Homo sapiens: one gene and its partners. The protein of the gene in region 3 interacts with the protein of the main gene of each other region in a pairwise test. Each region holds a gene or a part of one and is shown on either strand. Other genes may lie near its edges.

The links.
Region 1: the proteins of NR4A1 (region 3) and PRMT1 interact in binary tests that used the Homo sapiens proteins (3 or more experiments, as listed by UniProt).
Region 2: the proteins of NR4A1 (region 3) and LONRF1 interact in binary tests that used the Homo sapiens proteins (3 or more experiments, as listed by UniProt).
Region 4: the proteins of NR4A1 (region 3) and IFI27 interact in binary tests that used the Homo sapiens proteins (3 or more experiments, as listed by UniProt).

Annotation. Positions count from the first base shown.
Region 1 is NC_000019.10:49,672,420-49,680,270, reverse strand, and holds the start of PRMT1 (protein arginine N-methyltransferase 1), read right to left. Parts: upstream 3,001-7,851; 5' UTR 2,991-3,000; coding exon 2,955-2,990; intron 402-2,954; exon of another isoform or gene 400-401; coding exon 346-399; exon of another isoform or gene 342-345; intron 132-341; exon of another isoform or gene 36-131; coding exon of another isoform or gene 18-35; intron 1-17. Other genes in the region: BCL2L12 (bcl-2-like protein 12), read right to left, coding at 6,523-6,573. UniProt on the Homo sapiens protein: Arginine methyltransferase that methylates (mono and asymmetric dimethylation) the guanidino nitrogens of arginyl residues present in proteins such as ESR1, histone H2, H3 and H4, FMR1, ILF3, HNRNPA1, HNRNPD, NFATC2IP, SUPT5H, TAF15, EWS, HABP4, SERBP1, RBM15, FOXO1, CHTOP, MAP3K5/ASK1, MICU1 and NPRL2.
Region 2 is NC_000008.11:12,752,495-12,760,074, forward strand, and holds the start of LONRF1 (LON peptidase N-terminal domain and RING finger protein 1), read right to left. Parts: upstream 3,033-7,580; 5' UTR 2,927-3,032; coding exon 2,206-2,926; intron 1,955-2,205; exon of another isoform or gene 1,447-1,954; coding exon of another isoform or gene 1,419-1,446; intron 1-1,418.
Region 3 is NC_000012.12:52,054,430-52,060,023, forward strand, and holds the end of NR4A1 (nuclear receptor subfamily 4immunitygroup A member 1), read left to right. Parts: coding exon 1-775; intron 776-1,600; coding exon 1,601-1,730; intron 1,731-2,064; coding exon 2,065-2,216; intron 2,217-2,627; coding exon 2,628-2,830; intron 2,831-2,922; coding exon 2,923-3,101; intron 3,102-4,258; coding exon 4,259-4,515; 3' UTR 4,516-5,074; downstream 5,075-5,594. UniProt on the Homo sapiens protein: Orphan nuclear receptor. Binds the NGFI-B response element (NBRE) 5'-AAAGGTCA-3'. Binds 9-cis-retinoic acid outside of its ligand-binding (NR LBD) domain.
Region 4 is NC_000014.9:94,106,897-94,113,735, reverse strand, and holds the start of IFI27 (interferon alpha-inducible protein 27, mitochondrial), read right to left. Parts: upstream 2,939-6,839; intron 2,922-2,938; exon of another isoform or gene 2,758-2,921; intron 2,112-2,757; 5' UTR 2,054-2,111; coding exon 1,963-2,053; intron 1-1,962. UniProt on the Homo sapiens protein: Probable adapter protein involved in different biological processes. Part of the signaling pathways that lead to apoptosis.

The DNA of each region.
Region 1 (7,851 bases), on a different chromosome or scaffold from region 3:
GGGGAGCACCCCGATACCTCAGCCACGCCTACCATCTCTCCAGTCTCTCTGACCCCGTCTCTAGCTCAGCCCACAGCTGGGGAGGGGAGGGGAAGGAAAATGGGGGCAGACACAGGGAAGGGCAAAGGGGGGTTGGAGGTGGAGTTAAGGAAGTAGCGGCGATACTGGGGGAGGCCAGCGGGGGCTGTGAACCTGGAGGGGTTGCTACTAAGTGTCTGGGGGCCTGGGGTAAACTGGTTTGAAGCAAGAGGGGTATGGTTAGACCTCAAGAAAGGGCCAGATGTGTGGCAAGATATATTGATGTGGAGGTCAGGGTGGGGAGGGGTCTCACAAAAGGATATTTACTTCTTCAAGAGGCGGCTGGAGGCTCATCCCATTAGCCAAGGTGGCTACAAAATTCTAGGAGAGAGTAACAGGGAAAAAGGATTAGCTACTGGGAGTGGCTGTGGGAGGGCTGGGTGGCGGAACCTGGGCTCTGGCCGGGGGGTGGGTTTCCAGCAATTCTCCTTCTTGGTGGGGAGTGGTGGCGAAGGGGGCAAGTAATGAGGTGGGGTGTTTAAGAAAGGGTGGGAAAAGTGAGGGGAGAAGAAAGGGGGGTCTCCTATCCCAGCTGTGGCTGGAGAGATGGTGGCCCACCCCCACGCTGCCCCTCTCTGGCCAGGCAGCTGACCACACACCTCCCCCATCCAGGCCAGGGGAATTGGCACCCACCACCGCCAGCTGTCGCTCCCTCTCATCACCTAATCTCCTCCAGATTAGGTGACACTTCCTGACACACACACCCCTATCCTAGGGTGCCATGAATAGCAGAAGGGAGCGGGGCTGGCAGGATATGCCCACAGGGCATCTGCCACCTCTGCAAACCAGTCTCATGTCTGAGAGGATTCCAGAATAGAGGTGTGGCACACGGGTACTTCCCCAGAGCTAGTACCCCAGACCCCAGCTCCTGCCTTGGACTCAGGAGCCCCAAACAAAACCAGCTGGAACCAACCCCCTCCCTTATGACCCTCTGCCCACGAAGGTAGGGTCCCAGGGAAGATGGGCAGCTCCTGGACCCTCTAAGAATGAGAGGACTCCAGAAAGTGGCTTGGGGGCACGGTGGCTCACACCTGCAATCCCGGCACTTTGGGAGGCCGAGGCAGGTGGGTCACCTGAGGTCAGGAGTTTGAGACCAGCCTGACCAACATGGTGAAACCCTATCTCTACTAAAAATACAAAAATTAGCTGGGCCTGGTGGCGGGTGCCTGTAATCCCAGCTACTCAGGAGGCTGAAGCAGGAGAATCGCTTGAACCCGGGAGGCGGAGGTTGCAATGAGCCGAGATCAAGCCATTGCACTCCAGCCTGGGTGACAGAGTAAGACTCCGTCTCAAAAAAAAAAAAAAAAAAAGTGGCTTGGGGAGTCAGGCCATCGCCCCCATTCAGACACCCATCCCAGGCCCTGAAGACTTCCAGGTGCGGCCAAGCCTGAGGCCACCTCTGGGAAAGTTATTTCCTCCATCCATAGAGCCCCAGGTGCAGGAGACAGCCAAGAGGGTGGGAAGTCATTACAGTGACCCCTGGGAGCTGCATCCTGACAGCTGAGAGCTGACCTGCCCCTCCAGCCAATGCCATAGGTAAGGGGTGGAAGGACAGAGGCCCCATCAGATTACATCTCTTCCAGATGTGACCACTATCCAAGTCTCCAAGAAGGGCCACGTCACAGGCCATGACCTACTAGGCTCCAAGCACCCTCCCTCCAGCTCTCCCAAGCTAGCGGGGATGCCTATAAGAAGAAAGGTGCTGAGGGGGTTTCCCACTCGGGCCTATTTCTCAATACCACTGAAAACTACCGCCAGACAACCCCAGCCCCAGAGGGCTTGAAACGCAAGACTGAAACCTCCCCCACATGGCTGCACGAGAACCAAACCTCACTCGAAACCATTTCAGGCACCCACTCTCAGGACCCCAGGGCTCAGGACCCTGCACAGGGCTTCAGGAAGAAGGAGGTCATCTCGCACCCTCACAAAGACCCGGGGGAGATAAACGGCTCCAGTAGGGTAAAGCTCTCAGCCTACATATTTCCCACAACTCCTTCCCAGCGGACATACCCTCCTCCCTCCGCCCGCCAGGAAGAAATCCGAGGGGAGGTGGGCTTCAGGACACGCCCCATGAAAAAGATGTCCCTCCCACACACCCAGAAATGGCCACAAGGGGGTGCACGGCGCCTATTAATGGGAAAATCTCTATCTAGATGCCCCACCACCACCCAGAGGGAGGTCACAGGGGCATGCCCCATCCCCCAACTCCTAAAGCCCTGGGCGAGGGGGAGAATTCTGGGAGGGGAAACGGGGTCGGCGGGGGACCCCATTCTTGGTTTTCCTCCAGTCCCTAACCCAGAACGCACAAAACCGGGTCCGATATCCCAACAGATGCCCCCGGAGCTCGGAAGGAGGTTGGTAAAGGGCTGAGAAGCACTGCTCCTCCCAAGAGACTCCCCACATCGTGGAGGGCCCCAGGTCGATCACACCCCACGGCGTGTGCCCAGGTCCCCGGGGAGGAGGGCTGGGGGCGTCAGGAGGGTCGGACCCCCTCCCCGCCCCCCTGGGCGCCCCTCCCCGGCCGGGGGCGGGGCCTTTGTCCCGCACGTGGAGCCCGCCGGGCCACTGGACTCGGCACACCCCCTCCCCACCCACCGCGCAGCGGCCACGTGGGGGCCTGGCCGGAAGCGCCCCCAGCCCTCCTCCACGTGGGAGGGGGGATAAGACCCTCCGCTAGGCCGGATGCCGAAGGCCCTTGGAAGCTAGGGAGCCGTCACCTCAAACGATATCCCCGGATGTGGAACGTGCGGCGCCCCCGTGTGCGGCGGGGGACCTCCAACCCCATATCGCCAACTTAGAGCCCTTTCCCCACCACAGAGGCGTGAAACACCGACCCAAAGCCGCCTCCCGCCCACGGCGGCGCTCCAAGCGCTCACCTCCATGATGCAGTTCGCGGCCTCGGCTGCCGCCATCTTCACCCGCACCTACTCCTCCTCCGGCCGCCAAGACCCCCCCTTTCTCCTCACTCCCCCGGGACCGCCTTATACCAGAGGGTCCACGGCCCGCCTACCGCGACCCCGCTGGAAGATTTCATTGGCAATGGAGGCGGCCCGTCTGAGAATACCGTCTAGTAATTGGCTAGAGAATACGTCCATCATAGGTCAGGGGTTTGCCAACTCTGGCGTCCAGAATCCCGCCCCCTCAAGTCGACCCGGGATGGGGAAAACTGCCCGTCTATTGCAAGAAGCGCGACTGGTGATTGGGCAAAATCCACCAGGAATGCCCTCCCCTTTACACCCAGCACCGCCTCAAAGCTTCCCGGGGAGCCCCGCGCTAAAGGGGCGTCTTGAAACACCTGTCCATCACCAAAACGACCCGCCTCCTAATCGCTGCCATTGGTTTATCCGGAAGCGACGTCACGCAGCCTTTGGCCCACCCTCGCCAAGCGGCCGGCCTCAAGGAGAACACGGCAATTGGCCCACGGGTAGGGAAGAAGGCGGGGCTTCAGGCACCAACGATTGGCTCAAAGGAATTATCACTCCTCGTCCACTCGGTGGATCCTCCCAACCCGGGGGGAGTCTGGAGGAAAAAGGGAGCTTGTGCTCATTACCTGGGGGAAAAACGGAATCGGTGAGAGGCCCAGAGAGAGGAAGGGCATAGCTGGGGTCCCGAAGCAAGTGAGGAATAGGAGTCCGTCGTCAACACATTAAATCCCTAGCCCTTGACATAATCATTCCAAGTTTTTTAAAACCATCAACCCCTCTCAAGCCACTTGGTTTTTGCCAAGTCCCTCCCCCTGCCAGGAACGCCCACCTCTCTTTGTCTGGTCAGCTTCTAAACGTGAATCAGAGCACAGCTTAGGCACCACTTCCTCCGGGAAGCTTTCCTTGATTTGCAGAAAAAGTTCCTAGTTGAATGAAGCTGAATGCAAAGGGCCGAATGCGTGGGTCCTGCCCCTCCTCTCCCCGATCCCTCTACTTCCCTCTGCTCACACTTCTCTCCAATCCCGGAATGAGCTCGCTCTTTGGTTTCTGGGCCTCCGCGCAGGCTATACTCTCTGGCGTGCCGCTGGCAAACGCCTGAGACTTAAAATTTACAATAGGGTTCGGGCGCGATGGCTCACGGGTGTAATTCCAGCACTTTAGGAGGCGGAGGCAGGCGGATCACTTGACATCAGGAGTTCGAGACCAGTCTGGGCAACATGGTGAAACCCCCATTTCTATTAAAAATACAAAAATTACGCCAGGCGGCCGGGCGCGGTGGCTCACGCCTGTAATCCCAGCATTTTGGGAGACCGAGGCGGGCGGATCACAAGGTCAGGAGGTCGAGACCATCCTGGCTAACATGGTGAAACCCCCGTCTCTACTAAAAATACAAAAAATTAGCCGGGCGTGGAGGCTTAGGCAGGAGGATGGCGTGAACCCGGGAGGCGGAGCTTGCAGTGAGCTGAGATCGCGCCACTGCACTCCAGCCTGGGTGACAGAGCGAGACTCTTGTCTCAAAAAAAAAAAAAAAAAAAATTTGGCCGGGCGCGGTGACTCACGCCTGTAATCCCAGCATTTTGGAAGGCTGAGGTGGGCGGATCACAAGCTCAGGAGTTCGAGACCAGCCTAGCCAATATGGTGAAACCCCCGTCTCTACTAAAAAAACAAAAATTAGCCGGGTGTGGTGGTGGGCGCCTGTAGTCCCAGCTGCTCCAGAGGCTGAGGCAGGAGAATCACGTGAACCCGGGAGGCAGAGGTTGCAGTGAGCTGAGATGGTGCCACTGCACTCCAGCCTAGGCGACACAGCGAGACTCCATCTCAAAAAATAATAAAATAAATAAAAATAAAAATAAAAAAATTAGCCAGGACTGGTGGCACACGCCTGTAATCCCAGCTACTTGGGAGGCTGAGGCAGGAGAATCGCTTGAGCTCAGGAGGTGGAGGTTGCAGTGAGCCAGGATGAAGCCATTGCACTCCAGCTCGAGCGACAGACCGAGACTCTAACTTTAAAAAAAAAAAAAAAAATTGAAAAGCATGGCACTAAACAAACCAAGAAAAGGACATTTGTTTCCAGTGTTTGAGCTGAAGCAAGAGGAGCCCAGCTGCAAATATGCACATCAGGTCTTTAGCTTGTTGCAGCTCTGTGCATAAGCATTGCCCTCCAAAACACCACAAAAGCACTGCCTTAATTTTTGGGGTATGAATACATTGTAGCAAGGATGCAAATTTGCAAATAATCTACAAATACTGAGGATCAACTGTAATTGGTTCGGTTTGTAATCCTGTACATTTCACTTATTAATTTACAAACATTACTCTGTGAAGGGGGATATGGCCCTATAAAGGAGACAAACCGCCCAGGCACAGTGACTCATGCCTGTGATCCCAGGACTTTGGGATGCCAAGGTAGGAGGATCACTTGAGCCCAGGAGGTGGAGACCAGCCTGGGCAACATAAGGGAGACCCCATTTCTACAATTTTTTTTTTTTTGAGACGGAGTCTCGCTCTGTTGCCCAGGCTGGAGTGCAGTGGCGTGATCTCAACTCACTGCAACCTCTTGCCTCCCGGGTTCAAGCGAGTCTCGTGCCTCAGCCACCCAAGTAGCTGGGATTACAGGCACCCACCACCATGCCCGGCTAATTTTTGTATTTTTAGTAGAGATGGGGTTTCACCATGTTGGCCTGGCTGGTCTTGAACTCCTGACCTCAAGTGATCCACCTGCCTTGGCCTCCCATAAAAATTCTTTTTTAAAAATTAGCTAGGCGTCGTGTCGCATGCCTTTAGTTCCAGCTACTAGAGAGGCTGAAGTGGGAGGATCACTTGAGCCCAGGAGGTTGAGGCTGCAGTGAGCCATGATAGTGCCACTGTATCTATATAACAGTGCAAGTATAGGCAACAGAGCAAGACCCTATCTCCAAAAAAAAAGGGAGAGTGGGGGGTGTGTGTGAGACAAACCACTGGTCTGTAGGTAGATGAGAAACCAGCAAGAGAGACTTGAAAGGAGCAATGGGAGGAGAAAAACAAGAAGAGGGTGGTGTCCTAGACACAGGTGAAGTTAGACTGTACCTTTCTGTGGAATTCACTGGAAAGACTCCATGACCATCATACAGCATTAGCTAGAATAACCAGATCGTGCAATAGGAAAAAAAAATGCAAGTTGCTGGAATATTTACAGGTATTCTCTCAAATATGTTACATGTCCAGGAGACAGGCTCTTGTAGGTGCTGCAAATAAATATTTCTAGAATGAATGAACTGGTTCTTTCCTCAATTTGCGTAAGCCACAGAAATCTCTGAACCAAATCTCCTCTCCTTAAAACTTTAGTTCCCAAGTGTAAGAACAGACAATTGAATACTTTGTAACGTTTTTAATAAGAAAAGTTTTAAACAATTTATTTTTGGCAAAAACAGGTAGGGCAACCACCACCCCACAGCCCTGAGTGGAATAGGAAGACTTGGAAAAGCACACGAAGAGGGCAGGGACATGAGGTGTCATCTTGTAGCAGCTTCTGAGAAAGAGCTCAGTCCAATGGCAAGTTCAAGTCCACGGGTGAAACAGCCAGGATGCCCTCCTGGAAGGGAAAAGTGGCAGAGCCCTGTGAGCAGGGCAGGTGTTCCCCCCATACAGCAGCGTCCACATCAGCCCTGTGAGATTAGAGACGGGAAGGCGAGGAACCAGAGAGCGGAGGGTGACAGACACCCAGACAAGGGGACAGAGACCCAGACAGAAGGGCACAGGGATGAGGGGGCAGGGTCCTAGCAGGAGGAGGAAAGGTTGAGCTCGAGGAGGGTCAGGACACTGGAGTGGGATTAGACAGAGATCCAGAGAGAGTGAAGAGTTGGGGGACAGAGTCAGAGATGGGGAAGAGAGTCTTGGGATTTGAACAATTCAGAGTCGTGGCTTTGTGTACAAATCCAGATTCCAACACTCTGCATGCTGGGGACTTTTCCTCTCTGCCCCCACAAGACGAGGACAATAAGAGCCCCATGAGGTTGTAGTGGGTTTAAATGGGATCATTCCATTGAAATCCCTAGCAGAGGACCTGGCCCACCGAGAAAACTCATCTGCTATCAATCCTACTTTAAAAAAATTTTTTAAGAAATTGTCCAGGCGTGGTAGCTCAGCCTGTAATTCCAGCACTTTGGGAGGCCGAGGTGGGTGGATCACTTGAGGCCAAGAGTTCGAGACCAGCCTGGCCAACAGGGCAAAACCCCGTCTCTGCTAAAACTACAAAATTAGCCGGACATGGTGGTGTGCGCCTGTAACCCCAGCTACTCAGGAGGCTGAGGCAGGGAATCGCTTGAACCCAGGAGGTGGAGGTTGCAGTGAGCCAAGGTCGTGCCACTGCACTCCAGTCTGGGCAATAGAGTGAGACTCCATCTGAAAAATTAAAATAAAATAAAATAAACGAGCTTCTTTGCTGAGCCCAACACTTATATCCATTCCCCTCAACATGTGCTATGAGTTCTGATCTTACTGTAGACCGGACCACCTCCAGTCCTGCTCCCCACCCCCATCGCCCCCATCCCCACACCTTCCCCATCTCGGGGAACTTAAGATGTCGCCCTGCAGCTGCTCGGGCCAGCATCCTTTAGTCTGTCCCCACATCTGGCCCATTAGCCAAATCTGTCAGCTTCACCGCTAAGTTAAATCCAGCATTCTCCACCGCCCCCGACTTGGGTGAGATCCACTCACCTCCTCCCTGTGCCCCTACTTCTGCCCTCGCCCCCAGCAGTCTGTCCCCAGGCAGCCGCCAGAGGGCGCCCATTAGCGCCTAAATCAGCGCCTGTCCCTCCGCTGCTCAGAGACCTTGGCTTACCCAGAGTCAAAGTCCGAGTTGTCACTCACC
Region 2 (7,580 bases), on a different chromosome or scaffold from region 3:
AAAAATGAGGAAAAAATAAGCTAATGCAGTGAAAGTCAGAAGACTTGGGTTCTATTCCTGCAAAAGTAGAATGAAGTTGCTAAGTGGGCAAAATCCTCATGTGCAATCTATGCAACTTGAAAAAAAGAGAGATTACATCTTTCAGAGCCTTTTCCTGTTAAACATAATATCCTCGATCCAAGAACCAGAATCTCTGTTAACTAAAATATTATTGGTCACAGAATGTTAAGCTAGACCTCAATTATCAAAAGTGCTCACTGTTCTTCCATGGACCAGGACCTGGATTCTTGTGAAACCCCTAATTCAAGGTCAGATCACTAAATCAGCAGTACTGTCCATAAGGTTCAGCCTCAGTGACCAAAAAAACTTCCTTGGATATGTATACTAAACATGTGCTATAAGGCAGGATGAACCCTAGACCAACGTTTAGGAGAAGCGGAAGATACAGCACTGCCTCTCTACCAGTTAACAGTGTGACGGTGTGCAAGTCTTCACTGCCTGGCATCTGCTTCCTCGCTTTAAAAATCACACCATGGTCAGTTACTAGGTGGTCTGTACAACTGAGTCCAGTTTCTCTTCTCTTTATTCACCCAGAGAAGCAGAGTCATGTGTATCAGAATTCTGTATTCCAAATACTTTTTTTTTGTTCTGAGCCTACCTTTCTATTTTATACCTGCCTACTCCTCACGAAGGCACTGAAAGAATACAAAAATCTCCGGGGTTTGTGCTTCGAACTCTAAAGATACTAAACAACACAAGATCTTGACATTAGTTCAATATGACTAAGCACTTGGGACAAAAGATGACCCGAAAGATGATCCTTTCAGTTACACAGTCTATAAATTTACCTGTAATACCTAAAGTCAGTTGCTATTCTAGATGTCTGTTTTCTTGGGGATTATTCCCCTATCATTTCATGCCAATGGATAGACACTAAGATCTTGAAATACGCGTAACACAAGGTTTATCAACAGTGGCACTTGGGGCCTGATAATTCTTTGTTGTGGGAATCCTGCTGTGCCTAGTAGGATGTCTGAGCAGCACCCCAGCCTCTCCCACTAGATGTCGGTACCAGCACCACCCCCACAAGAGGTGGCAACCAAAAATCTCTCCAGATATTGTTCTAAATAATGCCCCCTGAGAGAGGGGAGATAAAATCCCCCTGGTAGAGAACTACTGATTTATATAGAACAACTCTTCCTTTTACGTAAGAGAAGCTTGAAACTGCCCCCTTTCAGCGCCTAAAACCACCTTAAGAAGAAAGTGCTAACCTAGGTTAGGAGGCCGAGGCTGCTTCTTGGAGACTAAGAAATGCACTCAAGACCTATAAGGCCTTTCCCCACAGCCTGATCCTAAGTGGAAAGGCCAGGAGAAGCGTGGCAGAGAACTATGGATCAGGCAGCCCCTCTCATCTTTACCATAAGCTAGGTGCACTGCAAAGTACATAGGAAATAAGCAGGATCTGAAACAGGCCAGCTGAAACTTTCAAGAGGAACCAGTTCAGGCATTTCCAGGTAGCAAGGGACCACCCTGGGCAGCTCCGCCCCAAGCCCCAAGCCCGGCGGCCTGCAGGGCCTCCCGGGGCCGGGCGCCCGCGCGGAGCTCCCGCCACGCCCACCGGACGTCACCCGTTACACAACGCCCCCCGCCCCCAGCTTATGCAATTCTGCCCTCCCGCGGTTCCCAATTGTCCCGGTGACTTTTGTGGGTGAGGAAGGGAGACGCCGCCTGCCCGGCCTAGTTGCCCTCGCGGGGGATTCTCTCCCCGCCCCGGCAGTCGTTTCCCCGCGGCGGGCCCGGCCCGAGAGCCAATTCCCGGAAAGCGCGCGGCAGGAAGCGAGCGGCCGCTCGGGATAGCCCAGCTACCACCCATCCCGCGCCGGGGCGGCCTCGGTCCAGGTCACCCACTCCGCGCCGGGAGCGCGCGCCCGACAGCCAGGCCGCGGCCGAGGGAACCCCGCGCCGAGCGCCCCTCCCCGCGCCGCGTCACAGTCGGCTCCCAGGGCGATCCCCATTATGACCGAAGCACCCCGGGGCGCCGCCCCCTCCCACACCCCCCAGCACCCCGAGACCCGACACGCCAGCGGCCCAGCGGCCCCGGGGAAGCAGAGGAGACTCTCGGGGCGCAGACAAGCTCCGGGTCCCCGGCCCTCGGGGCCAGGAGGGTGCGGTCGGCCCGGCCCCGCCGCATCCCCGCGCGGTCACCTGCTCGCAGCGCCTCGCAGGCGGCGGCCAGGGCCTCCCGGTAGCGCCCCTGGTGCAGTAGCTCCCCGAGCCTGCCGGCCGCCCGGGCCCGCTCGCGCTGGCCCGGAAACCACTTCTCGGCCAGGTGGTTGAGGACGACGCTGGTTCTGAAGTCTGAAGCGGCGATGGCGGCGGCCAGAGGCGGCGGCCGCGGGGCGGTCCCTTCAGCATCAGTGGCACTGGCGGTGGCGGGCGGCAGCCGGTCCCGGCAGAGGCGGCAGCGGGCGCGGAGTTCCCTCCGCAGGCAGCGGCGGCAGTAGCTGTGGCCACAGGGCACGGTCACCGGCTCGCTCAGGAAGCCCCGGCAGCCCAGGCATCTGAGGAGCCCGCCGGCGCCGCCGTCAGCGCCTGCAACCGGGGCCGCGCTCCAGCCCAGCCCGTGGCGGAGCCGGTAGTTGAACACCAGGCAGTCCACCAGGGCGCCCAGGCACTCGGGCCTGGCCGGGGCCCCGCGGCGCAGCGCCGCCGCGAACGCCTCCAGCGCGCCCTTCAGGTGGCCGCCCAGCGCCAGCAGCTCCCCGCGGCGGAGCAGCAGCTCCCAGCGCTCCGACTCCGCGGCCGCGCGCTCCAGCCGATGGCCGCTGCCGCCGCCCACTTCCCAGAACCGGCCTCGGCCCTGCGGCGCTGGGGCCATCTCCCGACTCCCTCCTGGGGAGGTCCTCGCCACCGCCGGAGAGGACATGGCCCGCGGAGGGCTGCGCCGCCGCCGCCCGCCGCCACGGTCCCGGAGCCTCCCGGGCGCGCGGCTCCGCACGCGGCCCGCGAGCAGGGGGGCGTGGCGCGCGGACACGGCGGGGCTGCGCGCGCCCGGGAAGCCCCGAGGGCGGGGCCTGGCGAGGGCGGGGCCGGGCTCGGCGACGGCGCCCGGGACTCCCCCACGCCGCCCGCGGCCGCGCTCCCGAGGAGCCAAGCGCTGGGCCCCGCCCCTTCCGAGCCCCCTCCGGGTGGGGGACGCAGGTCGGATGATTCCTCCGTCGGAGATCTAATTGGCTTCTCCGGAAAGGAGGGCTCGGCTCGTGACGGAACAAAGCCGGAAGGACCCCGGAGCTTCAGTCCCCGCTTGCCTGTCTGCCAACGCCGCCACCTGCGGTGGCCCTCGCCCCTGCCGGGGGTTGGGGGACGCTCCCCTGCCGCGCGGGACTCCGGGTCACCACCCCTCCCCCGACGCCCCCGCCCAGGCCGGACCTGCCCCAACTCCTGGCGGGCGGGGGTCTCCCCGCGTGGCCTCGCGCTTGTGCGGGTCTGCATTTTCATAGCTCTACGCCCATGTTCCAGGTGGGCGCGCCCAAGCAGGGGGCCTGGGAGCGCACCTTCGGCAGATGACTGGGACTCTTCGGTTCTAGAGGACTCAACTTTAAATATGAACAAAAAACCCACGTTCCTGGGGCGACTCCCTCCAGAGGGCAAGGAGTTTTTCCTGGTGCCAGGTGACTGCTTGCCCGTCTTGCTTAAAACTCATCGTGGGCCCACCTCGAGGGAGAAAGCCCACAGCTTCCTCAGGTGTCTCCACACCTCAAGCACTGCCTTACAGCTGGTTAAGGTCTATATTTGGCAGTTTTAAAAGAAAACACCAAGAAACATGTTTCACATGGCGGTCACCGTATTACTACAACCCAAGCTGGCTCTGCAGTTTTGCTGACAGAAGAAAATGATCGGGTTGATATATAATGGGTGCTATTTCCCTTAAACTTCACAGCAGCAAGTTTAAAGCTCTCAGCTGAAAATACAGATTTGATGATAGGGTATTAGATCGCTAATGTTGGAAGTCACTTAGGACTTTTAGTCCTTTTTCAAATGATTGGAAACACAGGGAAAGTTATTTGTCAAAAATCACACAGCTAATACAGATTTTAAGATCACGTCTATTCCACTACTACTACGTTAGACTAATATGTAATATTTAATAAAATATGTAATATTTCATAGAAATATATGAGATTTTCAAAGTAAAAGAAGTTGCTAATTGGAAAGTTCACCTGAGCATGCTATGTATGAAATTGGTAAACGTTTAATATTTCTCTTTATAAGGAACAGGCAATTAAGGCTAAAAAATGTTTTGAGTTCATGTGTTTTCACTACACAATCAACAAGTCGTGTAACGTCAGAAAAGACAGAGTTATATTACCCTAAAGGGAATGAATAAAAAAGAGGTGCCTGAGAAAAAGCCAAGCCTCCTGTTCCAACAGGATGCAGACAGAAACAAGTTCATTTATCACTCACATTGCACCTGAAGCAAATTGCAGCTAGATCCAAGGAGCACCTCCTAAGCATTTGGCATGGGAAGCATTGGGATTAAGTCATGAGCATAACCTTAAATCCAATCCTAACCCCTAAATTACTACCTTAACAAGCAGAACAGTGACTTTCAGCTGATGTCCACATACTCCCTTGAGACTTGAAATCACAAACAAATATCCATGTGTACACGCACATTCATTTTTGTAACGCATCCTTGTTCTTAATGGCATGTTGCAAAATTTACAACAGTAAATATGTAATCAATGTGTTCATGTTTATTACAAGGAGCATAGTAAATTAATAAACACTCATAAACTTCTTTTCAAATATAAAGTCAGGTTCTATTATGGGATTTCTGCCAAAAGTACAATATGTGGTTCAGAAAATAATGTGAAGTATTATTTGTCCTTTGGAGTTCCTTTTCCTAATAAATATGACAACCACATCTGATTCTGATGTGAAATAAAATGGCACAATTATGATAATGTGCGGGAGAAAAAAATGGGACCGTAGGAGGAATCTTACCGTGTTCTCCTTGGCATTTGTGAATGGTTATAATTCATGTTTGCTGGTTTATGCATTTACATAACTTGTTCTCATTTATGTAACTTATTTATGTAAGAGGCTGTACTGCCGCTGTGGCCTTTGTGTGCTGCATAACTTCCCTTTGAATCAGGAAGTCTAGGCAAAGCAGTCACTGGCACTGTCACAGGTCACCCTTCCATCATTCTCTGCCATCCAAAAGTTGCACAATAATGTGACTGCTTGTTTAAATTCAAAGGCGAGAAAAATTAGTGTCCTTCTTCGTTCATTTCCTAAAATTTAGACAGGTCTCTGAGTCACCCAGCAGGCTGTGATGGAGAAGAGGGAATCCTGCTAAGCTGCCCCTGGCTAGGAGAAGTATAATGGAGTGAAGAGCTCTCCTTTTCCTTCCGCATTACTTGCTCGTGTCATTCTTTGCTAACAAAGTAGTAAAATCATGAGATTTGTATTCTGTTTCGGTTTTTGAGTGTTGTCTTCTAAAATAGATCAGTTATGTAAGAGAGTCAGAAGAAAAGCGTATCTGTTTCCTAATTTGGAAAATGCTTATCACCATCATTGCCTGCTTATCCCTGCCTCCCACTGCCACACCATAAGACTTTTCCTGATATAGTTTGGTAAACTCCTATTTAAGAGTAACATAACACAGTGCTTTTCTTATATACAACTCAGCTGAAGATGTGTATTTGAACCTCTTTTTTTTTTTTTTTTTTTTTTTTTTTTGCTGTGGGTGAATTTACCATTTGTTTCTTTACATTCTTATTAAAAAAGAAACTGAATTTGTCAGTCCAAGCAAAATATGTCCCATTCCTGATTCATTTCAGTTGATAATGTTCTATTCAAAGAGAGTAAACTATAACGTTTTATATAAACAGTACCTAGCCAATAGATTTTTTTTTTTTGACACAATCTAACTTTGTCACCCAGGCTGCAGTGCATAGTGAGTATATAGCTCACTGCAGCCTTGACCTCCTGGGCTCAAGCAATCTCCCACCTCAGCCTCTCCGAGTAGCTGGGACTACAGACGCATGCCTCTCTGCTCAGCAATTTTTTTTTTTTTTAACTTGTTGTAGAGGCGGGCCCCATTATGTTGCCCAGGCTGGTCTCAAACTCCGGGCCTCAAGCAATTCCCCTGCCTCAACCTCCTAATGGGCTGGGATTAGAGGCATAAACCACCACGCCTGGTCCCCAATAGCATTTTTGTACAGAATACACAGATGGAGGGGTCTCTAGAGACCACCTTTTCATACCCCTCTCTCTCTCTCTCTCTCTCTCTCTCTCTCTCTCTCTATATATATATATATATATATATATATATATATATATAAGAAAATTGGGATCTGAGAAGCTGCTAGTTTCATAGAAGTCATACCAGCGAGGGAATCCAGACACCTGGTGCTGACTCTATTTATGCCTCTATGCCAGGGAAGAAGTCACCTGGGTTCCCTAGGCCTCATTTGCTATCTGTAGAAAGAGGGAACTGCAACTACCTCTAAGGTGCCTTCTGCCTCTGGAGCCAAGCCCCAGGGCTTGGTTTGAACACAGTAAGAGGAGGCAGAGCATCTCCCAGACTGAGGAACACAGCAATGTGATACCTGCTGAAAATGTAACAGCAGATGAGGGCTGAGAATAGAAGAGAAGGGTATCAAGAACACATTTTGTTGGTACATACTCATCCCTGTTTAGAGAGGGGGAACCAGTTTCTGAGACCTGAACACCTGCAGTCACTGTACAGGGATCCCCTATTGCACTCACACCTCCTTGCCCCTACTGTAAAACTGTGGGAAGCTGAAAGAAAGCCGGGGGTGGGGGGGCCGAGGGAGAGCTGATTATATAACTTGGGCATTTGTGCGAAAGTTTATATAAGATGCTAAAAATACCATATATGATTGCTATAATAGCGTTCCAAATGAAAAGCCCTAATGAGGACAACCTGAGTAGGTTAAATAGAGCTGATACGAAGTGTAAGTCTAAAGCCAATTGCCTGCAAGGACTACCATCTAACCAAGTACCATTTACTGCTCATTCTTTGTTATCCCTACAGGGTGCACAAAGTGCGCAAGGGCCACTACCCTTACAAAGGGTGCTATGCTTCATTCTTCATTTCTAATACTCTGAAGAATCTAGAAATACTAAGTGTGTGACCCATGGCCTATTTTGCTGGTAGTCAAATTGATTAAATGAATACATTTTCCTGTATCAAGCTGTTTAAAAAGTAGACATAGGAATAAACCCCATATATTATTTAACAAATTCTAAGAATTTAATACATATGAATCCCCCTGGTACTTTCCATCCTCCTTCCTTGCTGCCCCCCCACCGCACACCCCCCCACCTTTAGTACTTATCATCTGACGTATTACATACATATTACTTGTCTCCACCCTCCAGAATGTAAGCTCCTTGAGATTTGGGATTTCTGTACATCTTGTTCACTGTCATGTCTCTAGCACCTAGGCACCAAGAAGACACTAGAAAATCATTCTTAAATGAGTCCACCCACAAAGATATCATGTACTATTTTTCATTCTTGTTAGTGATAAAAATCTGGTGGGGCA
Region 3 (5,594 bases):
CATGGACCTGGCCAGCCCCGAGGCAGCCCCCGCTGCCCCCACTGCCCTGCCCAGCTTCAGCACCTTCATGGACGGCTACACAGGAGAGTTTGACACCTTCCTCTACCAGCTGCCAGGAACAGTCCAGCCATGCTCCTCAGCCTCCTCCTCGGCCTCCTCCACATCCTCGTCCTCAGCCACCTCCCCTGCCTCTGCCTCCTTCAAGTTCGAGGACTTCCAGGTGTACGGCTGCTACCCCGGCCCCCTGAGCGGCCCAGTGGATGAGGCCCTGTCCTCCAGTGGCTCTGACTACTATGGCAGCCCCTGCTCGGCCCCGTCGCCCTCCACGCCCAGCTTCCAGCCGCCCCAGCTCTCTCCCTGGGATGGCTCCTTCGGCCACTTCTCGCCCAGCCAGACTTACGAAGGCCTGCGGGCATGGACAGAGCAGCTGCCCAAAGCCTCTGGGCCCCCACAGCCTCCAGCCTTCTTTTCCTTCAGTCCTCCCACCGGCCCCAGCCCCAGCCTGGCCCAGAGCCCCCTGAAGTTGTTCCCCTCACAGGCCACCCACCAGCTGGGGGAGGGAGAGAGCTATTCCATGCCTACGGCCTTCCCAGGTTTGGCACCCACTTCTCCACACCTTGAGGGCTCGGGGATACTGGATACACCCGTGACCTCAACCAAGGCCCGGAGCGGGGCCCCAGGTGGAAGTGAAGGCCGCTGTGCTGTGTGTGGGGACAACGCTTCATGCCAGCATTATGGTGTCCGCACATGTGAGGGCTGCAAGGGCTTCTTCAAGGTACCGCGCAGCCCCAGGTGGGGCCTTTTGTTGGAAATGGAGAGAGGCTGGCCTCATCCCATTGGGACCTGTGGTCTCCCCCTGGGTTCTCCTCCTAGCTAAGTCCTGTCCTGCAGGGTGGGATCAGCCCTGCCAGGTGGGCCGCCTTCCTGGAGACCCGTAGATGCCAGGGCTGGAAGCTTTCATTTGCCGGGACACTCGGGCCCATGGGATTGCACAGAGCTGGAGGGAGGGGTGAGATAGGGGCAGATAGGAGCTGCAGGGGTGCCTGGCGAGCCTCTGGTTTTCCTCTGCTCCTCTGCCTGTCCTCTCCCAACTCAAGGTTCTAGTGGGAAGGGGTGCCCCCAGGCTCTCATGTTCCTGGCGTGAGATGAAAGGATCCCTGCGGAGGGTTTGGTTCTTGAGGGCTGGGGGTGGACTTGGGAACAGGCTGTGTGTTTGTCCCAGCGATGGTGCCTGCTTAGCTTCCCGTCCCCACCCCCCAGCCCCTTGGCCCTCTCCTGTCTGCCCTAGGGAGAAGGCAGGTGGACAAGGGCCCATGAAAAAATACAGGTGTCTAGACTGCCAGGGAGACCCTGGCCCCCAGTAGTGTGTCCTGGGGACTTCCTCAGAGCGAGAAACCTCCCCCAATGTCTTCAAGACTTTTCTCTCCCCCCGCCCAACCCCGTCTCTCCCTCCCTTGCCACCCAAATGTTAGAAAAATAGCTGTGAACAGAGAGCGCTTTTGTCTGCAATGGCAGCAGGATCTGGACGGTCCCCTCCCCTAAGTTCCCCCCTCCCCACCCCACACTCTGACAGCTTGTTCCGTGTTGCCCCCCCACCCAGCGCACAGTGCAGAAAAACGCCAAGTACATCTGCCTGGCTAACAAGGACTGCCCTGTGGACAAGAGGCGGCGAAACCGCTGCCAGTTCTGCCGCTTCCAGAAGTGCCTGGCGGTGGGCATGGTGAAGGAAGGTGTGTGGCTGGGGTGCGGCCCAGCGGGGCAAGGGTAGGCTTGAGTGGAGTGGGACCAGCAGGGCCCCCAGGCTTCTGCCCTGGAGGACCCAGAGGAGGGCACGTCTTATTTCCACCCCACCTCTGAACCCCAGGCCTTGGAGGGAGGCAGCCTACACCTGCCTGGATTGTGAGGGTGGTGGCAGGGGGAGGTTCCTATAGGGTACCTTGGATCTCAGGGACTCTGGGTCCTAGGGACTCGGTGGGGCGCGTCTCAGCAGTGGTGTGCACGGCTTGGGCTGAGAGGCCCTTCCTCAGATCCCTTCCTTCCTCACCCCTACCCATTCCTTTGCAGTTGTCCGAACAGACAGCCTGAAGGGGCGGCGGGGCCGGCTACCTTCAAAACCCAAGCAGCCCCCAGATGCCTCCCCTGCCAATCTCCTCACTTCCCTGGTCCGTGCACACCTGGACTCAGGGCCCAGCACTGCCAAACTGGACTACTCCAAGGTGAGGTCCCACCCCGTGTCTGCCTTGGGGAGGTCTATGAGCACATGCAGTGCCTTTGTGCGTGTTAGGAGAGCTACCCCCTCTGGAAGGACTGAATGAGAAAGGAGGTTTAAAAAAGAAAGAAAGAAAAGCGACTCCCTCCAGTTCGACAGATCAAAGAGAGGATCCCCCTCTCGGCTGACCAGATGGGAAAATGCACCCCCTCAGGCAGGTGGCCAATTAGAAAAATATGTCCTTTTGGCAGCTGCAGCCCTGGGTTAATATGTGAGACTTGGCAAGTGAGAGCCTGGGCAGGATCTCAGATCCACTCCCACTCCCGGGATCTGGCATCCAAGTGTCTGACACAGCCATACGTGGCAGTGGGTGTAGGAGCCTGCCTGGGGTGCTGACCCCACTGGACCGTCTTCCTAGTTCCAGGAGCTGGTGCTGCCCCACTTTGGGAAGGAAGATGCTGGGGATGTACAGCAGTTCTACGACCTGCTCTCCGGTTCTCTGGAGGTCATCCGCAAGTGGGCGGAGAAGATCCCTGGCTTTGCTGAGCTGTCACCGGCTGACCAGGACCTGTTGCTGGAGTCGGCCTTCCTGGAGCTCTTCATCCTCCGCCTGGCGTACAGGTGAGAGCCACTGACTGTCTGCCCAGCCCCTTTCCCTGATACACCTGCCTGTGAACCACCCTGATCGCTCTTCGTGCCCATCTGCCTGCCAGGTCTAAGCCAGGCGAGGGCAAGCTCATCTTCTGCTCAGGCCTGGTGCTACACCGGCTGCAGTGTGCCCGTGGCTTCGGGGACTGGATTGACAGTATCCTGGCCTTCTCAAGGTCCCTGCACAGCTTGCTTGTCGATGTCCCTGCCTTCGCCTGCCTCTCTGCCCTTGTCCTCATCACCGGTGAGTGACCAGCACCACACCAGGTCCAAGGGAATGGGCGTCAGGGGGTTGACTGGTTCTCAGGAGGGCACTGTCCCAGGGAGTTTGGTGGGCCGGGATCTAGCACTTTCTGGGCCCCTGCACTGCCCCGGGCTCATGCCAGCAGTAAAGTAGGGACCATAGGAATTGCAGATGGGCTCAGCTGCATCCAGCTCTAAAGCGCAAGACAGCCTTTGGTCCCAGACTGTCAGGATCCAGACTGCAGGTGTCATGTATGTGGCCTAGGGTATTGGCTTGTTTTTAAAACCTTCCTGTCAATTATGCTGCATATAGAAAAGTACACAAATGGTAAATTTTCATAAACCGCACTTACCCAACCAGCGCCTTGGTCAAGAAAGAGCACATAACTGCCCCCCAGAACCCATTATTGTGCCCCCTTCCAGTCATTTGCCCTCCCCAAGGGTAACCACTACTTTTTATTTAAATATTTTAAAAATAAGATGGGAATCTCACTATGTTGCCCGAGCTGGTCTCGAACTCCTGGGCTCAAATGATCCTCCTGTCTCAGCCTCCTAAAGTGCTGGGATTACAGGTGTGAGCCACCACGCCTAGCCCTTCACTGTGACTTCTGACAGTGCAGATCAGATTGGTTGTGCCTGTTTTGGACTTTATGTAAATGTAGTTCTGCAGGATGGAATCTGGTGTTGAATGCAGAGGTTTTCAGATTTCTCTGTTTTTTAAAGGAAAGAATCCACCCTCGTTCATTTTTTCACTTAAATTGCACAGGGGACCCAACGATATAGAACACAATCAGAGGTACTCTGGGCTGAGGGAGTGCTGAGTTCTGAGGCTGGGTTTCTCAGAACAGTCTAGATTTTAAAAACCCAATGATCTAGCCAGAAAACGTAGGTTAGGATTTTATTTCCCGTTTGTGACCCTGGGCAAGTCATTAGCCTCCTGGGCCTCGGGTTCTCACTTGGAGTATGAGGATAATGAGGGTTACTGCTTCTCAGACTTGTGACGATGCTTACTAATGGCCAACATGTGAATGCGCTTTTGTGAAGTGCCAGCAGAGCATGAGGGGTGGTCAGGGGCAGCAGTTTTAGGGGCCTGGGGGAGGCTGGGGCTTTGGGGGCCTGGTTCTCAGATGTACAGCTAATCCTGTACCCTTCCCGCAGACCGGCATGGGCTGCAGGAGCCGCGGCGGGTGGAGGAGCTGCAGAACCGCATCGCCAGCTGCCTGAAGGAGCACGTGGCAGCTGTGGCGGGCGAGCCCCAGCCAGCCAGCTGCCTGTCACGTCTGTTGGGCAAACTGCCCGAGCTGCGGACCCTGTGCACCCAGGGCCTGCAGCGCATCTTCTACCTCAAGCTGGAGGACTTGGTGCCCCCTCCACCCATCATTGACAAGATCTTCATGGACACGCTGCCCTTCTGACCCCTGCCTGGGAACACGTGTGCACATGCGCACTCTCATATGCCACCCCATGTGCCTTTAGTCCACGGACCCCCAGAGCACCCCCAAGCCTGGGCTTGAGCTGCAGAATGACTCCACCTTCTCACCTGCTCCAGGAGGTTTGCAGGGAGCTCAAGCCCTTGGGGAGGGGGATGCCTTCATGGGGGTGACCCCACGATTTGTCTTATCCCCCCCAGCCTGGCCCCGGCCTTTATGTTTTTTGTAAGATAAACCGTTTTTAACACATAGCGCCGTGCTGTAAATAAGCCCAGTGCTGCTGTAAATACAGGAAGAAAGAGCTTGAGGTGGGAGCGGGGCTGGGAGGAAGGGATGGGCCCCGCCTTCCTGGGCAGCCTTTCCAGCCTCCTGCTGGCTCTCTCTTCCTACCCTCCTTCCACATGTACATAAACTGTCACTCTAGGAAGAAGACAAATGACAGATTCTGACATTTATATTTGTGTATTTTCCTGGATTTATAGTATGTGACTTTTCTGATTAATATATTTAATATATTGAATAAAAAATAGACATGTAGTTGGAACTGAGATTCAGTCTGTCTCTGATGCCCCCTCCCCACTCCCCCACCAGACACACCCCATCATTACATAAGAGATGGGCTGCTCAAGATGAAACTTGGATGTTACCAGCCTGAGCTGTCAGGCCTCAGTGTACTCATTTGTAAAAGGCGGATAATAATGACACCTGCTTCACGAGGTTGTTATGCAAAGCACTTAGACTAATTTCTAACACGTGGGAAGCCTGCATTAGCTGTGCCTGGCTAGCTGTGCCTGGCTCATTGCTGGGGTCTGCAGTGGCTGACTAGCCCAGGGGTCACTGCAGGGCCCTAGCAATAGACTTAGCCGCAGATCTCAGGGTTGTCATGTTTCCTAAACTGGACATATATTCTCTGATTCTTGATTTCCACATCCATAAAACAAGAATAGACCCAGCCTCACAGAGCTTTTACGGTCAGAGGAGTGTGTGTGTAATGCTTAGCATGGGCTGGGTTTAAGTAAGCCCAAATTGGTAGTAGCTGTTACATTCAGGGTTTTAACATCCCC
Region 4 (6,839 bases), on a different chromosome or scaffold from region 3:
CAAGAGAGGTGATGTCAAGTTGGCTGGCAGCCCAGCAGACCTGCACCCTGACACACAAAAGCCCTCAGGAACTGGCTGCGGTGTGTCTGGAGGCCTGCCTGTTAGGCTCAGCTGATGGGCATTCATACGGCGGAGTAGCCTGGCCATTATTTCGTGCCATTCAGAACCTGCCCTACCCTGAGACCTCCCTCCAACCTTTTCCTACTTCTATTAATATTTCTTTCTTTTTTTTTGAGACAGAATCTTAGCTCTGTCACCCAGCCTGGAGTGCAGTGGCACAATCTCGGCTCACTGCAACCTCTGCCTCCTGGATTCAAGTGATTCTTCTGACTCAGCTTCCCAAGTAGCTGGGATTACAGGCATGCACCACCATGCCTAGCTAATATTTGTATTTTTGGTAGAGACAGGGTTTTACCGTGGTGGCCAGGCTGGTCTCAAACTCCTGACCTCGAGTGATCCGCCCTTCTTGGCCTCCCAAAGTGCCGGGATTGCAGGTGTGAGCCACCGTGCCTGGCCTATTAATACTTTCTGTCATTGTTCATTGTTCTACCTCCTGTTCCAAGCCTGGAAGCAGCACACCCACACCCTTCTGTCCTGCCCAGAGCACTTGGACAACAGTAAATTGTCCCAGTTGGTAAATAAGGGACGATATTATCTTCTTATCTTCCTCTGGGGTTGTTATGAGAATTAAATTGACAAACCTCAAGTGCTAGGGTAAGTGACTAGAACATAAAAGCGCTTGCTTAAGTTGAGCTGTTATTATTTTAATTTTATGAATTGCTTGATCTTAAACTGAGAAGTCATCTGCATTTCTGACAAACAGAAAGGACTGCTGGGCGTGGCCCAGGCCCTTGCTTGCTCATCACACTTCTCTGTACTGAGTTGGGAGCCCAGAGTGGTGTGTGTTGCCGAGGGCCAGTTACCTCCAAGTTGCAAAACAGGGTGCCAGTGAGGGACCCCAGCATGAAGGAGCTAGCCTCCAGTGCCCCCAGCAAGGGTCTGAGGAGAGAGATGTTGGGGCTCAGGGCAGCTGAGGATGACAGGGTCAGCAAAGGGTGAGTGCAGGCTCAAACAGAGGTTAGAGGTTGGGGCAGGGGTCAGAAGTCAGGGTCGGAGTCAGGGGCCCTGTGCCCCCATTCAAGCCTGTGCCATTTGTGCTGGCGGAGTTGGGGGAACCCCTGGATGTCCACCCACGGAGACAGAAAGGTAAAGGGCAGGGGATACACACAGAGGAGCACTTGTCAGCAGGTAGAAGCCAGGATTAGATGCTCATCGAATGACACTGATGGATCTCAAGAATATGGTTCTCAGTGTGGAAAAAAGCAATAGAATGGGATCTACAGCACACCATCCTGCATGTCAGTTAAAATGCCCGCAAACAAAACACAATACCCATTCTGCAAAAATACATATGAAAAACAGACACACATTAAATATATTAGAAAGGTTGACTTTGAGGGAGGGGAATCGAGGGTGAAAAGGAAGAAAATGAGAATAAATAAAACCAGAAAGAGATCTCCCAGAAACTAATGAAAAAAGTGAGCTGAAGAATTTTGTTAAAATCGATACTCTGGATGTGAGATCCCATAGGACACGGGGCCCTATTGACAAGGTAAACTCCTAAAGGAGATGAATTCTGATGGTGAATCTGGGGGAAGGGAGAGCTGAAGAGAGTGGGACTCAGTGGTAGATAGACCCTTTCCGGCTAGGCAGGAGGAGGCCCGGGCCCAGAGGGGAGAGGACCTGTGGAACACCCAGGGCTGGGCATCTGGCCAGAGTCTGCCTGCCCCGGGCCCCCTCCCAGATGGAAAGTTAGGGTGGACGCCTGCTGTGAGAAGACAGGACAGGGCAGCAAGGCTGCGGGTGTCCCCCATTTTCTCTCCCACGGGTCCCGGGACAGGACCCCCGCCCTTCCCAGCCGCCTCCTCGCCCCCAGCACCAGCCCCTCCCAGGAACACTCACCCAGGGGCAAAACTACGGCAGAGCCAGAGGCCACCCTGACCACTTTGGCCACACTGGTCACTGCTGATGAGGTGAGAGCAGAGGCCTCCATGCCTGCTCGGGTTAATTCCGTGGCCTAGAGAGTAAGAGATCCTCAACTTCAGCCAGACCTGCCGAAGGGATGGAGCTCTGAGGACGGGATGGGCACACAACCTGACTTGCTTCCCACTGTCCTGAAAAATGTGACGGGCTCCAGGGGGCTAGGGAGGCTGCTCTGAGCTTGTGGAGCAGCAGGCCTTGAAAGGATCCTGGGGTGAGGGAGGGAGGGATGTTGGGGAGTTGGGGCTACCAAAGGACCTGTGTTAGGTCAGGGCCCTGAGGGACTTTATTTCCCCAGGGGGGCTGCTTTCTTTCTCCTGAAAGTCCCAGCGCCAATGTCTTAGACACTTCCGGGACTCCCTTATCTCTCCACGGAGCAATTGAAAAAGCACCAAAACTAAGAAATCAGAACCAATCGCATTTTTAAGGCATATACAGCAGGCGAGGTGCCTGCTCTTATGTAATCTCCTCACTAACGTGAAAAAGATGGGACCCTCCTCCTCCGCATGTTACAGATGAGGGAGCGCGATCTGGCTCAGTGATTTGCTCCAGGTCAGAAGCTTTCCATAGGGAAGCAACACCCCGCCCAGGCATGGACTTGCAATGGCTTCGACTTGGTTCCTCCTAACACTTATCTCTTCCCCTTGCCCACTTTACCCCAAGCCGCCCTCAAGGCCTGAGGAAAACCTGGGCAAGGACAAAGCTAATTGTCCTTACATTCCAGAGTCCAGGGACAGGTGGGGCTCGAGTCCCTTCCCATCTGAGGCTCCCTGATGAGAACAAAAACACCGGGCAGAGAGTGGATGCTTAAGGCCTCCCCTCCGCTCCCTGAGCCCACAGCCCACCCAAGGTCCGGGGCCACGGGAAGGGTAGCTCCTGCCCACCCTCCCAGTCTTACCCAAAGAAGGAGAGTTCCTGAGAATGTGAAGCTGACCTCACCGTCTTAAGCTTGGATGTGTTCCCAAAGGGTGTGATCCCAGGCCTTTTAAGCAGCTCCACCCCGACTGAAGCACTGCCCCTTGACACAGGCAACAAATGAGATAGGTTTCATTTTCCAGGAAACCGAAACTGCAGACATCTTTCTCCCCTCATGCGCAGTCCAGAAGAAAATTCAGTTATTTACAGAAATAGGATTTGCCCATGGCATCAGTCATTGTCAGTTAATATAAAATGCTTTGTCATTTAATTCAAGGATGGGAGTGTGCTCTACGCAGAATGAAGTCACAAGAAGTAAGATCAAAGTTCTATAATAAAATGATAAATATTACTTTCTAATGAAGAAGGTGATTTTCAGAATAATAGTAGTCCTTGCGATAGGCAGATGTTCCGTTTTTCAAAAAAAGTCTCAACTGAAGGCCCACTGTGCTAGATACTGACTAGGCACTGGGACAGGACTGTAAACAAAACAGACCAAAATATCCATCCTCACAGAGTTTACCAGCAATGGGGGCAAACTAAACATAATAAATAACTAAATGTATAGAATGTTATTTGATGAAGCGCTAAAGCAAAAGGAGGTGAAGCAGTGACCTAGGCAGAATTATGGGGGGGCAGTCATTCCAGGTGGAGGCCACAGCAGTGGCAGAGCCCGTGTGGCAGGAGCAGCAAGGGGGCCAGTGTGGCCTCAGCAGGTGGGCAGGGGAGAGAGGCAGGAGGTGAACTCAGAGTTTAACAGGGATCCAGGCCCTGTGAGGCCACAAAAGCACTGCAAGGACTTGATCTTGTGTCCTGAAGCCATTGCAGGGGATTATCATCTATACCTTTTTGGGGAAAGGGAGATGAAGCTGAGAAATGACACAGTCAGGCTCACCCTGCAGCTGCTTTGAGAACAGGCGGAAGAGAAAGCACCAGGTCCTGGAATGTACATTTAAATCTTCCACATGAGTAGTGTGCGAGTTGTAAGATTCAAAATGGAGTCACTTGGGTAAAACCTCAGCAGACAGAGCCAGCAAGGCTTTAATGGGAGGGCTCTCACGCAAGATGAGGCTCTCCCGTTTGCCTGCTAACAGGAACTATCACAAGAAATGTTTCCAAACTGCAGCTTATCACATGGGCCACACAAGGACAGCTAGAAGCACAGGGAGAGCGAGCCAGTTATGCAAAAACACTTGCCTGGCACAGTGTCTCACAAACCCAATCCAAAACTGCAGGAACCTGACCATAACTCCAAGATTCCCAGTCCTACCTAGCAACTACTGACACTTGGCGGTCAGAACTCGCCAGGTCTTGTAAGATGCTGCCACCACCAATAAACTTTTTTTCTTCCTTTCCTTTCCTTTCCTTTCCTTTCCCTTGCCCTTGCCCTTGCCCTTGCCCTTCCCTGCCCTTCTCTGCCCTTCCCTGCCCTTCCCTGCCCTCCCCTCCCCTCCCCTCCCTTTCCTTTCTTTTTTTTTTTTATGGAGTTTTGCTCTTGTTGCCCAGGCTGGAGGGCAATGGCGCAATCTCGGCTCACTGCAACCTCCACCTCCCGGTGGAGTGATTCAAGTGATTCTCCTGCCTCAGCCTCCCAAGTAGCTGGGATTAAAGGCAACTGCCACCATGCCCGGCTAATTTTTTGTATTTTTAGTAGAGATGGGGTTTCACCATGTTGGCCCGGCTGGTCTCAAACTCCTGATGTCAGGTGATCCTCCTGCCTCAGCCTCCCAAATTGCTGGGATTACAGGTGTGAGCTTTCGGCTGTGGGATCACAGCCATTAAACTTTCTTTCAAAACAACTTGCATAACTTTCATAAAACAAATTGCATTGAACTTTCCTTCAGAACAACTTGCATAACAGCCTCTTTCTCTAAAAATCCCCAGCTTTTTCCTTTGTTCTCCAAAACAAAAAGGCCACCCTGGTCCATATTTATGTTGTGGGATTGCAATCCTACTTCTTTTGTATTATTCCCAAGTAAAACGATTTTACTTAAAGATTTGTCTCCCTCTCTCTCTTTTTTTTTTTTTATGTTGACACAAGTGTGACATCAATATGTTGGTTCAACTAGTTTAAGCCACACTGATGGCGATCTATACTCCTATTCAGGGGTCCAGCAGGTGTCCACTCTGGCTTTCTCTCTGGGAAGGGCCCCCGGGGAGGCAGTATATTCAGAAATCCACACGCCCCTGTGCAGCTACTACATCAGTACCAGAGACTTTGCAAATTAGCACAATGAATGTATGAATGTATGTATGTGACATCATCAGGCTCCATGTCCTAACCAAAGGCTGGGTTGGGGTCACCCTAATGCTGAGGCTCAAATCACTTCTGGATGGAACAATACACGGCCAGCATATGGACACAGTTTTTGTCCAGCAGTTCTACACAATTTCAATAGTAAATAGTAATGCAAATCAAGACCACAATGAGATACCATCTCACGCCTGTTAGAATGGCTACTATAAAGACACGTGCACACGTATGTTTATTGCGGCACTATTCACAATAGCAAAGACTTGGAACCAACCCAAATGTCCATCAATAATAGACTGGATAAAGAAAATGTGGCACATATATACCATGGAATACTATGCAGCCATAAAAAAAGATGAGTTCATGTCCTTTGGAGGGACATGAATGAAGCTGGAAACCATCATTCTCAGCAAAATATCACAAGTACAGAAAATCAAACACCACATGTTCTTACTCATAAGTGGGAGTTGAACAATGAGAACACATGGACACAGGGAGGGGAACATCACACACTTGGCCTGTTGGGGGAAGGGGGCTGGGTGAGGGAGAGCATTAGGAGAAATACCTAATGTAAATGACGAGTTGATGGGTGCAGCAAACCAACGTAGCACATGTATACCTATGTAACAAACCTGCACGTTGTGCACATGTACCCTAGAACTTAAAAGTATAATTAAAAAAAAGAAATTCCTCCAAAGTAGGAAATGTTCCTTTAACAACCAGCGACACAAGTACCTTTAAAAGGGAAAAGACAAAATAAAATGTGGTGGATCATTACCGTAGAATACTAAGCAGCAATTAAAAATAATGAAAAAGACTTATAAAATGTAAAAAAAAGCCAGCATCAGAATAGTATGTATTAGGTTAAACAAAACCATAGCAATAAAAATGCATATAACAGAACTATATACAAATATTTTCTATGGAGATACCTATATATCTCTTCTATCATCTATCCACAGAAATAACTTTAAAAGGGCATGGAGAACTAATTGCCCAAATGCGAGCCACAAAACTATGAAACTCCTAGAAGAAAACATAGGGGAAATTATTCATGACATCAAACTTGGCAATGAAGAGTAAACATTCAGAGTATACCAAAAAATGCTACAACTCAACAACAAAAAATCGAATAACCCAATTTTAAAATGAGCAAAAGTGGGAGTGGTGGCTCACGCCTGTAATCCCACTACTTTGGGAAGCCGAGGCAGGCAGATCACCTGAGGTCAGGAGTTCAAGACCAGCCTGACCGACATGGTGAAACCCTGTCTCTATTAAAACTACAAAAGATTAGCAAGGCGTGGTGGTGTGTGCCTGTAATCCCAGCTACTTGGGAGGCTGAAGCAGGAGAATTGCTTGAACCCGGGAGGCAGAGGTTGAAGTGAACCGAGATTGTGCCATTGCACTCCAGCCTGGGCAAGAAGAGTGAAACACCATCTGAAATAATAATAATAATAATAAATGATATATATAAATAAAATGGGCAAAAGACTTAAATGGACATTTCACCAAAGATGATATATGCTATAGTTTAAATATTTGCCCCCTCCAAATCTCGTGCTAAAATGTAACCTCCAATGTTGGAGATGAGGCCTAGTCGGGGGTGTTTCGGTCATGGGGGTGCTTGGCA